2 separate regions of the Homo sapiens genome follow, and region 2 is linked to region 1. The links come from fine-mapping of genetic effects on gene expression. A gene starts in region 1. The other region holds a variant in brackets. All regions are shown on one strand. Distances are between the middles of the regions.

Region 1 (5,200 bases):
CAACTTGCCCATCTTACACCAGGCCTAGCAAACTTCTCCTGGTCCTTTAAGAGCCTGTCAAATGCCACCCTCCCCATTCTCGCCAGTGGTACCCATGACGTGCCAGTCGGCCTCCTTGGCACCCAGCACGTAACTGATCCCTACTGGGAAGTGAGGCAATCCCTGCTAGACACAAATTTGGTGGGCAAGGGAAGGGGCACAGGGAGGCATCAGAGCTGCTGGGCTCCCGTGGAAAACTTAGACAACCACACAGTCAACACACAGGGGGTCTCACCCTGCCCACAGCAGGTGCACACTGCTTCACAGGCAGGGGGAGCTGGGGAGTGGGCTGGGAGCCGCCCACTCCTCATCCGCCCTGAGGGACGAGGACAGCACAACCGAGTGCCCTGCACCTTTGCCACGAGTGTCAACTTCATTATCACAGGGATGGAATCCTGGCCAGGCCCCACGGCCCACAGGAATGGGGTGCTCCAGGCTCAGAGACCCCCACTCGCCCAGAGCACGCTTGCTATGGAAGTCGAGCCTGTAGACCCTGAGGTGAGTGGGCAGCAGCAGGAGGTGGCCCTCATCTGGCACTTCCCACCACAGGTCAACGCCAAGGGGTGGGGCAGGCACGAGGGGCCCAGAAATACAAGTCCCCAAGCCCAGGCCTGGAAAATACGGTGACCAGGCAGCGTGTGGGGTGCAGGAGAAAGGCCCGCAGGTGACGCCTCTGAGGAGGGCATGGTCCTTGGACCCCACTCAGCCATCTGCACCGGGCCCCTCATGCTCCTTGGTTCGGGTGAATGTCAGTGCTGGTTGGTCCACCCAGAGCCTGAAAGTCAAGGCTCCCAGTGACCCCTTCCCCCAAGACCCGGCCAGGCAGAGCCCCCAGTAGCCACCCGGTACAGAGCCTGGGTCTCAGCACACCTTGCTGCCCAGGGTGCACGCCACGGGCACCTCCTGTCACCCCAACATGCAGGGAGGGCACCACATGCTGGGGTGCTTGGCGCCACCCCCACCCCTACATTTCTGATGTGGCCTTCTGGGTGTTGAGGGGGGGCCTGAAAACTGCATTTCTAACACCGTGTTCTAACCCGAGTTCTCCCTGGGTGCTGATCCCACTTCTGTCACACGGCCTCAGGCTGAGGGGTGGGAAGGCCTCCGGAGCCCCTGTCCATCTCTCAGCACAGCCTGCACTGCCCACAGGCTTCAGCCAGCTGGAAGCTGTGGAGTGTGGCTTCTTTTCTTCTGAGTTTAATTGTCTGCCCCCCCAAACAGGTCAGCAGCCCCAGACAAAGCGAGCTTTTACCAGCCTACTGTGCCCTCTGCAGAGGCCCATTGAGAAGGAAAAAGCCAAGATGGCACAAGGAACGCCCGCAGACATCCCAGACCAAACGTCCAAACAGGCAGGTGCTGCTGCTGTCCTAGAACCTCAGCCCCACGTGGCCACCATGCTCCACTGCGCCTCGGCCCCTCCATGCATCCAGCTCCCAGCCAAGGTGGCTTCCTCATCGCTTCCTTTGAAACCTTCCTGAGCCCCAGGGAAGGGACTCCGCCCGTCTTCCTTAGGGCCTGGCTGGGCTCCAGGCCTGCCTCTGTGTCTCCTGTGGAGCTGCCTTCGGCATTTGGCCTCAGACACACAAGCACACACTGGCACAGGCACACACACACACACGCCAGTCCCCTCACACCACTGATGTCAGGCACCATTCCTGATTTGAACTCACGAGTACTGCCAACTTGCCCACACATTTCCAAAACCTCACAGTTTCACCTTAAGATAGGACATCCTAGGCAGGGTCACCGGCCGGCACTCTTGTGTCTACTTGTGGAGCCCTCCCTGTTGAATGCACAGGTGATCGGGAGATAGGGAAGGAGCCTATGAAGAGAAAGATGGAGCCGGGTGCCCAGGGACAGGCAGAGGCACGGAGATGCACACGGGTGCCGCAGCCCCCGGCCCTTGGAGGGCACGTCCAGCAGGCCACGCTCGCCTCACACCCCCACCAGGCAACCCCACCCGGGAGGACACACTCACTGCTGCAGCTGGCTGTGCCTGCCCCACTCCCCCGGCCCCTCATGCCCACACACGGGTGCACACTCCCACACACACGGGTGCACGCTCCCACACACTTGGGCGCACACTCCCACACACGCCCCTGCACACACCGAGCTGAGTGGTGTGGGCAGGGAGGCACCCCCGCAGCAGGTCAGAGAAAGTACAGGTGAGAAAAATGTCAAAAATGGATTTTCCGGCAACATCCCTATGGCAGCCAGCACAAAAATAGGCACCCGGGAACCCCATGCCACTTCTCTGGACAAGGCCACACAAGGACAGACTCCGGGTCACCTCTGCCTGGGTGGCTGAAGCCCCTGCCCAGGGCACAAACAGCCGCACGCTGGGACAAAGACAGGCACACCTGCTGGCGGCTGAGGAACCACACCCTGTGGGTTGCGGGAGGACAAGGCAGGCTCCTGTGCCGGCAAGGTGGGGTCAACCCCGAAGGTCGAGGACACCAAGACCCGCTCCTCTCCCACAGAGCAACAGGAAGTGCAGGCGGCTAAGGAAAGCCCCACTGGGCAGGGCTCCAGAGCAAACCCGCCAGGCTGGCCCGGGACTGCACAGCCGCCTCTGCCCTGGACAGCTTGCGTGTGGCCCAGCACAGCTCGCTGCACAGCCGCCGGCCACACTGGGAGGGCAGCCACGGACACAGTCCGCCGCCTCCCCACCCTGACCTCCTTCCTGGGGGCAAGAACAGGGCAGACAGATGTGCTACACACCCCTCCCCCAGCCAGGCTGGCAGGTGTTACCTGAGCACTTTGCTGACAGCCTGAAGCACCATTTTGCAGCAGAGTCCACTTTGCAGGGACTGGCCGGGCCGGGCTTGGTCTTCAGGGAGACTGCAGTGGTCTCCCAGCATGAGTGGGCGACGGGAAGGTGGGGAGGAGAAGCGGGGCGGGGTGCCGGCTGGCCAGCACTCGCAAATGCCTGCTGCCGGGCCCTCCAGCCTCACTCCCTGGCCAATGGGACGCCTGGCAGAGACAAACAGCTGCCCCCTTTCCAGAGGCAAGGGCTGGCCAAGGCTGGTGAAACGAGGGAGCGTCTGAATTGGCCTTTTCCAAGTGGCATGGCTGCCAGAAGAGGCGGTGGGGGTGGGACCAGAAGGGAGGGGACAGGGCCGTCCTTGGCCTGCAAGAAGGGTCCATCAGAAAGGTCCTGGGCTCCACCTCAGGCTGCCAGAAGAGGCGGTGGGGGTGGGACCAGAAGGGAGGGGACAGGGCCGTCCTTGGCCTGCAAGAAGGATCCATCAGAAAGGTCCTGGGCTCCACCTCAGGCTGCCAGAAGAGGCGGTGGGGGTGGGACCAGAAGGGAGGGGACAGGGCCGTCCTTGGCCTGCAAGAAGGATCCATCAGAAAGGTCCTGGGCTCCACCTCAAGGTCCTCTGCTGCCAAGCCCCCAGGAAAGGCCTTCTGAACACAGGCAGCAACTCTGCTGACGAGCTCCAGGTCGATGGCACTCCCCTCTCCCTTGTCCGGCCCAGCCTAGCCCAGTCAGTGCTCGGGCCAGGGACGGACAGACGGACAGACAGATGGGCCGCCCTGCCCTGCAGTGTGTACGCAGCTGGAGGCACTCAAAGTGGCTTTCCTGCTGGATGGCCCTGGAGAGAGAAGGGGCCGACCAGCTTCTGCGGTGCCTGGACGGTGCTGGGCTGAGGCTGCTGCCAGCCAGGACCACAGGGCACCCAGCCCAACAGAAATGCCCACAGCAGCTCCCCATGGGGGCGCACAGAGCGGCACGGCCCCGGCCTTCCTTCTGGCTGGTCTGCACACAGGAGACCACCACATCCTGAAAATGCAAACACCTGAGAGGGCAATGCTCTCTCCTCATCCTGAGTCAGCGTGGACCCCACTGGCAGTGACAGCCCCCTGACAACACGGGGTCATCAGGAGCATCCCCCACCCGCATGGGAGCCATACTTCCTGTGCTTCCTGCCAATCAAGAGACCCCAGCATCTCCAGCCACTGCCCCTCAGAAGCTGTCCCAGCACCTCTGTCGGTGTGAAGCCCTGTAGGAGTCAGGACACAGCCTGAGGTACCAGCTGCTGCGGGGAGCACAGAGCCATCAGGAAAGCAGCCAGGGTAGGCTCACCCCCATCAATACCAGCCCCCATGGGAGTTGTGGTGTCTGGACTGCACGCACACACACAGCCTGGGCGCACGGGGAGACAGCACACCAACCCAGCACAGACACACTCTCCAGGAGCCACAGCAGAGGATGGCCCCAGGCCGGCCCCCGCCTCCCTAAGCAGCAGCAGCAGCAGGCCCAACAGGCTGCAGTTTCATTTTCCCCACTAGGCCAGTCCCTAAGCCATGCTCTGAGCAGTGCGTAACTGGTCTCTACAGAACAAACAGCCCGGTGAGGCTCAGGACGTCCATGCGCCCACAGGCCTTCCTCTGCCTTGGCAAGGCCATCCCACAGCCCTGTGGTGCCACACGCACCTAGGCACCGTGCTCACGGCTGCCGGTCTGCCCTCGGGGGCTCCACCAACAGCAGGGACACAGGTGCTGGCAGGTCACCCAAGTGGCAAAGGGAGCCACAGGAAGAGCGGGCTCCAGGCCTGGGGAGGCCCCCGTGAGTAGCAGGGCTGGGACCAGGAGGTGCATGACGCAGACCTGCCCACTCTCGGGAGGCATGGCCTGGACAGAGAAGGCCGTGCAGAGGCCCATGACAGGGAGAATGAGCTGCTGGGGGTTGGAGGGCAGAGCATAAAGGAAGCTGGGGATGGTGGAGGCTTCGGGCACAAGAAGCCAGGCAACCAGGCAAGGCAATGGTGAGGGTGGCACGGGGGCGGGGGAACAGTCAGGACAAGGTGCCGGGTAGGGTGGGGGGAGCACACCAAGCGTGCCTAGTCTGGTCCAGGCAAGGCAGTGGTGAGGGTGGCACGGGGGCGGGGGAACAGTCAAGACAAGGTGCCCGGTAGGGTGGGGGAGCACACCAAGTGTGCCCAGTGGGTCTGGTCAGCACACGGCAGCTCTGTGGCTTATGCCACTGTCCCGAGAGGGCTGGGCTGGCGCCAGAGGAACGTCCACATTCATCTGTGTTTGTTCACTGGGGGACACGTGCAGGGAGCAGGTATTCCTATTGATCAAAACTTAGGTAGTGGGGCAGGAGTGGGGTAGGGTGAGGGGCAGCTGGAACCCACAGACACTGAGCGACAGA
Region 2 (5,200 bases), 120 kb after region 1:
CAACAAAAAGCAAATGACAGTGAAAAGTGAGTCCAGTATGTGTGATCCTACTTGTGGAAAAACTCCACATATATGAATACGCATGCGCGTAAAGAAACATAGACTTATACCCAGATCTACTTCCTAGGAGAGGCAACCATGATACAAGTTCTAGTGAAAAGAATTAAGTTGCAAAGAAATGTGGATAATAAAATCCGAATTGGTAGCAATACCCAATTGTGTATGCGCATCTATTTTTTATACATTGTATGTGCAAGTAGGAGGGTTGGGTGGGGGTGCCTGTGGGGCCTGGCACTGGGGGTGGCTTTTATTGTTTTTTAATTGTGTATATTTAAGACATACAATTCGATGATCTCATATATGTCTACATTGTGAAATAATCACCACAGTCAAGATAATTAAGACATCTGCCACTTCACATAGCTCTCTCTCTCTCTCTCTCTTTTCTTGGTGGTGAGAACATGTAGGATCTACCCTCTCAGTACGTTTTAAGTACATAATAAACACCGTGTTGTTACCTGTGGTCACTTTGCTATGCATTGGGTCTCCAAGCCTTATTTATCTTGAAGAACTGAAGCTTTGGACCCCTGGGCCAGCACCTCCTCATTTCCCCTTTCCCTGCCTCTGGTTCCCATGCTTGCACTCTGTGCTTCTGTGAGTTTCACTCCTGTAGACTCCATGTGTGAGGGAGAGCGTGTGATGTCTGTCTTTCTGTGTCTGCCTCTTTTCACCCTGTGTAATGTCCTCCAGATTTGTACATGTTGTTGTAAGTAACCAGATCTCCTTCTTTTGAAAGCTGAAGAATATTCCATATATACACGTATAGATGTATGCATATATTCCACATTTTGAAAAAGTCAAATACATAGAAACATAGAATAGAACAGTAGTTACCAGGGTCTGGAGGAAGAAGGAAAGGGGGAGGAGGAGGTCAAGGGCTTGCGGTTGTGTAGGAGAGGGAGCCGAGCAGTCCAGTGCACAGTGCAAGGACTACAGGTGACAGTCAGGTGTTGTGTGTGGCAGGTGTGCTGAGAGAAGACTCCAGGTGCTCCTACCACACACACATACACACACACTAACATCGTACACACATACTTACCCTCATACACACACATACACACACACACTCACCCTCATACACATACATACATACACACAGTCTCACACACAATTAAAAACACACCTTACACACACTCATACACACATAATCATACAAACACACACACTCATACACATGCATACACACTCATACACACACTTATCCAAACACACCCATGCACACACACTTATACACACACATACAAAAAGGAACCATGGAAGGTGTTGGAGATATTAATTGCAGCCATCATTTCAGTAGTGTACATGTTTACCACAGCACCATGTTGTCCACCATGAATATGTACAATAAAAATAAATGTAAAAAAAGATGTGTCTTGGGAGAGTCCTTCATAATAACACCTGAGAGGTGTCACCTTTCTTGACTTTTTCTGACCATGAAATGCACCTGCCAAGGATGGCAGACGTAGGGAACTGACCTCCTGGGCCCTCACGTGCCCAATTATCTTTGGCCCTCCGGACTGGAGCAGTTTGTAGACCTTGGAAGCAGGGCCCCAGCACTGACTGCTTGGCCTCAGGCCTCTGCCCCATCGGTGGTCAGGTGGCGGCCACGAGGGCGTGGGAGCTTGGCCATCCCTGCCTCCTGGAGTGGACGAGGTTGGCGGCTGGTCAGCCTGCTCCTGCCCCACCCTTGCCTCATGGACCCTGGTAGCATCACTGGCTCAGCCTTGCTGGGCATGCACAGGCAGCAGCACCCGCTCTGATCCAGGAGGCTTGCCCTGCTTTTGGCTAAGTTCTGGGTCCGGCCACTGCCACAGAAGGCTCAGTCCCCTGTGTGATCCTCCTGGCTGCTGCTGGGTGCCCATGGCGCCCCTGATGCCCTTCCCTTGACAGGGCTTGGGTTAGCATCAGGCCAGGACCCTCTGGGACTGGGACTTGTGCCCTGTCTGGGGTCCCTGTCCCACAGGTTGGGCCAGAGGCCACAGGGCATGCTGCTGGCTGGCCATGGCTGCAGGAACGTGACACTCACCCTTCCCTCTGGCAGCCTCCAAGTGATGAGTTTTCCAGTGGATATTAATTTCCTGAGGCCAGGAGCCATCTGGGGCTACAGGGCAGCCTGCCGTGTGCCATCCTGGCCCCTTCCACACCATGCTGGCCACTGCCTGTCATGGGGGTCGGAAGCAGGCGATCCCGTGCAGGAGGTGTCTCTGGACCTGCCTCTTCTCTTGCTCATCACAAGGCCAGGCCAAGCCTGGTGTCAGGACCCTGGTGGGGTTGCAGGGCCAGGCCTGTCCCCTGTGCCTGGGGTGTCCAGGGCACACATAGAGGAAATAGGGGCCCTGCATCCCGGCTCCTCAATGTACTGTAGAAATCATGGGCCCTCAACATTCAGGTCCGTGGGAGGCATCCACAGAGACTTCCAATGAAGGAACTGTTAGACAACTCCTGGTCTCTCCTGAGCTGGGGACAGGCCAGCCACACCCTGAGCCCCTGGGGACCCCCAGAGAGTGGCCTACTGTCTTGGGCTCTGAGGAAGTGCTCTCATTGTAGAGCACGGGGGATGTTGTGGCCCACTCCTCTCAATTTTGCTGTGAACCTAAAACTGCTCTGAAAAAAAAGTCCATTAAAGGAACTAGCATGGGCTGATGGGGAGGGGCTCATTCACCCCTGAGTTGGACACCGTGTGGCTACGAATCCACCCTCAGACCACAGAGTGGATTTCGGCAGCAACACCACACCCTAGCCTCATCCTGAGCTCAAATTTAACTCAGATAGACCAGGCCCTTTTTCTAT[C/T]GTTCTTAGCCACCATTAAACCAGGTCACTCGTTCTGTGTTTTTGCAATTGGCTTTTAAACAAAAGAGCTGGGTTTGGTGTATGTTTCCTTGTCAAATATTTTTTTCCAATAACACAGGTGGAAGAAAACAGACAGGGCCTCTTTCTGGTCCAGCCATGGGGTGGAGGCCGTTTTTGACTTTCACCTTCCTCTGTGGGTCCAGCTCTCTCTTGCTTGTTGGCTCTGAGGATTATTTAGTTTTTCAACAGCTCAGTGACTTAAAAAAAATATATATGCTTTAAACATAGCACTTTAAAGCTTTATTTATTTACTTACTTATGTATTTATTTATTTATTTATTTAGAGAAAGAGTCTAGCTCTGTCGCCCAGGCTGGAATGCAGTGGTGCGATCTAGGCTCGCTGCAACCTCCGCCTCCTGGGTTCAAGCAATTCTCTTTCGTCAGCCTCCCAAGTAGCTGGGATACAGGCGCCCACCACCATGCCTGGCTAATTTTTGTATTTTTAGTGGAGACGGGGTTTCACCATGTCCTTTTAGAAGTTTCAGGGTTGTGAATAGTGTCTAGTCAACCTTACTACCGAAACAGAAACTCAGAAGCAATTTCTGAAACTTCCGTGTTGTTGAGTTTTCACTTTCTTGTCGCAGTTCCGCCAGGCACTCACTGCCTACCATCCTGTGAGACGGTGGCTTCCCGAGCAGCCTCCAGCGCTCTGCTGTTACAGACGCCTGGGTCTGGGGGCTCCAGCCTTGCAGCCCACCTCCTCCTCCGCCAGCTCCTGCCTTCCCTCCCCATGAGTCGAACATGCTGGACTTTGGTCTAGGCCCTCCAGCCTCCGGAACTGGGAGAAATGGTGTCTGTTGTTCCGTCTTCCAGGCTTACTCTGTGGGTTTTGTTCTGGCAGCCCCAGCTGACAGAGGCAGCAGGGAAGGGACAGGTGGGCACCTGAATCAGAAGTCTGTGTAGGGAGGTGTCACAAGGAGGCAGGAAATAGATGTCTGTAGGAAGCCTTCCAGGAGATGCTGAGGGATTTGGCGACTTGTGGGGGAGAGAAGCCCAAGGGGCCTCCCAATTCTGTATCCTGGAAGATGGGAAAGACGGAGACGCCCCAAGCCAAGTGGATGCCACGGCTGAGTTGTGCCCCCTGGTTCATATGTTGGAGTCCTCAACGCAGTATCTCAGAATGGCACCTTATTTGAAGATAGGTCTTTACAGGGGTGATTAGTTCAAACATGGACCTAATGGAGTAGGGTGGGCCCTAGTCTAATCTGTGTCCTTATGCAAAGAGATGAGGACGCAGACACACACAGAGGGATGAGTACGTGAGGATATAGGGATGGCGGCATCAGTAAGCCACGGAGGGAGGCCTCAGGAGGACCCGGCCCTGAGGCACCTCGATGGCGGATTCCGGACTCCAGACTGTGAGACAATCCACTCCTGTTGCTTAAGCCACACGGTTTGTGGAGCAGCCCTAGCAAACTCACACAGCAGGGTACGGGGGGTTCCCAAATGCCTGGGAGTGCAACTCTGTGGAAAGTGTACATTTCTCTAATCACACAGAAGTTGAAACAAAAGAATCACAATGCAAACTCGTGGGAGGTGCAGATCGTATTTATTTAGAAGATCTAGCCTAGGCACTTACAAGGCGAAGCCCTGGGGAAAGAAACAGGGCCAGGTCGGAGGTAGAAGAGGAGACTGGGCGCCCCTCCTCCTCAGGAGAGGATCCTGGGGTCTCCAATAATTCCGAGTCCTCTAGGTCAACTCCAAAAGCAATCGGAGCGGTGGCAGCTCAGGCAGGATGAAGACGAAGCGGGGAGGAGCCAGGAGGTTGCGGGGACCGGGGAGAGGCGGCAGCAGGTCGGAGGATTCCAGTGTCAGCGTGTTTCCAGCAGGCTCACAGGAGGGGCCCAGGGATGTGGGATCTTGAAGCCCTGAGAAGGTTGAAGTGGTGGGGTCAGGAAAGGAAGACGGGATTCCGGGAGGGTTGATGGGCAGGACCCAGCATGCCAGAAGCCCTCATGACCTCAGAGGCTGAGCGGCTGAGTACTGAGCCCTGGACGCTAGGCTGCCTTAGTCCAGAGGAGGACAGATTCAGAGACGTGCTTCAGGAATTCAGGACACAGCTGCAATCATTCCTGGAGAGCCCGGATCTGTAGGACCCACTGAGGTTTGTGGGCAGAGCCTCAGATCTTGCACTGGCAGCAAATTGGGACACAGCAGCTGGACTGGGAGGAGCAGGGCTTGCAGCAGCTGGACTGGCAGCAGGATGACCCACAGCCTGAGGAGCAGCAGCAGGGCTTACAGCAGCTGGACTGGGAACAGCAGGGTTTGCAGCAGCTGGACTGGCAGCAGG

Evidence for each region. PIP is the estimated chance that this variant, and not a neighbour inherited with it, causes the effect.
Region 2: its variant is the best candidate, but not a certain one, in a credible set for the expression of MOB2 in whole blood (INTERVAL, PIP 0.68).

Annotation. Positions count from the first base shown.
Region 1 is chr11:1,483,657-1,488,856 of GRCh38, forward strand. It overlaps MOB2 (MOB kinase activator 2), which reads right to left and starts at 3,123. Exons shown (of 5, transcript NM_001172223.3): 1 at 2,791-3,123. The coding sequence starts at 2,900.
Region 2 is chr11:1,602,639-1,607,838 of GRCh38, forward strand. It overlaps KRTAP5-3 (keratin associated protein 5-3), which reads right to left. Exons shown (of 1, transcript NM_001012708.2): 1 at 4,927-5,200. The coding sequence ends at 5,031. Among named protein-coding and RNA genes, the nearest start is that of KRTAP5-3, 3.2 kb to the right of the region's middle. The variant C/T (reference allele first, on the strand shown) is at 2,851.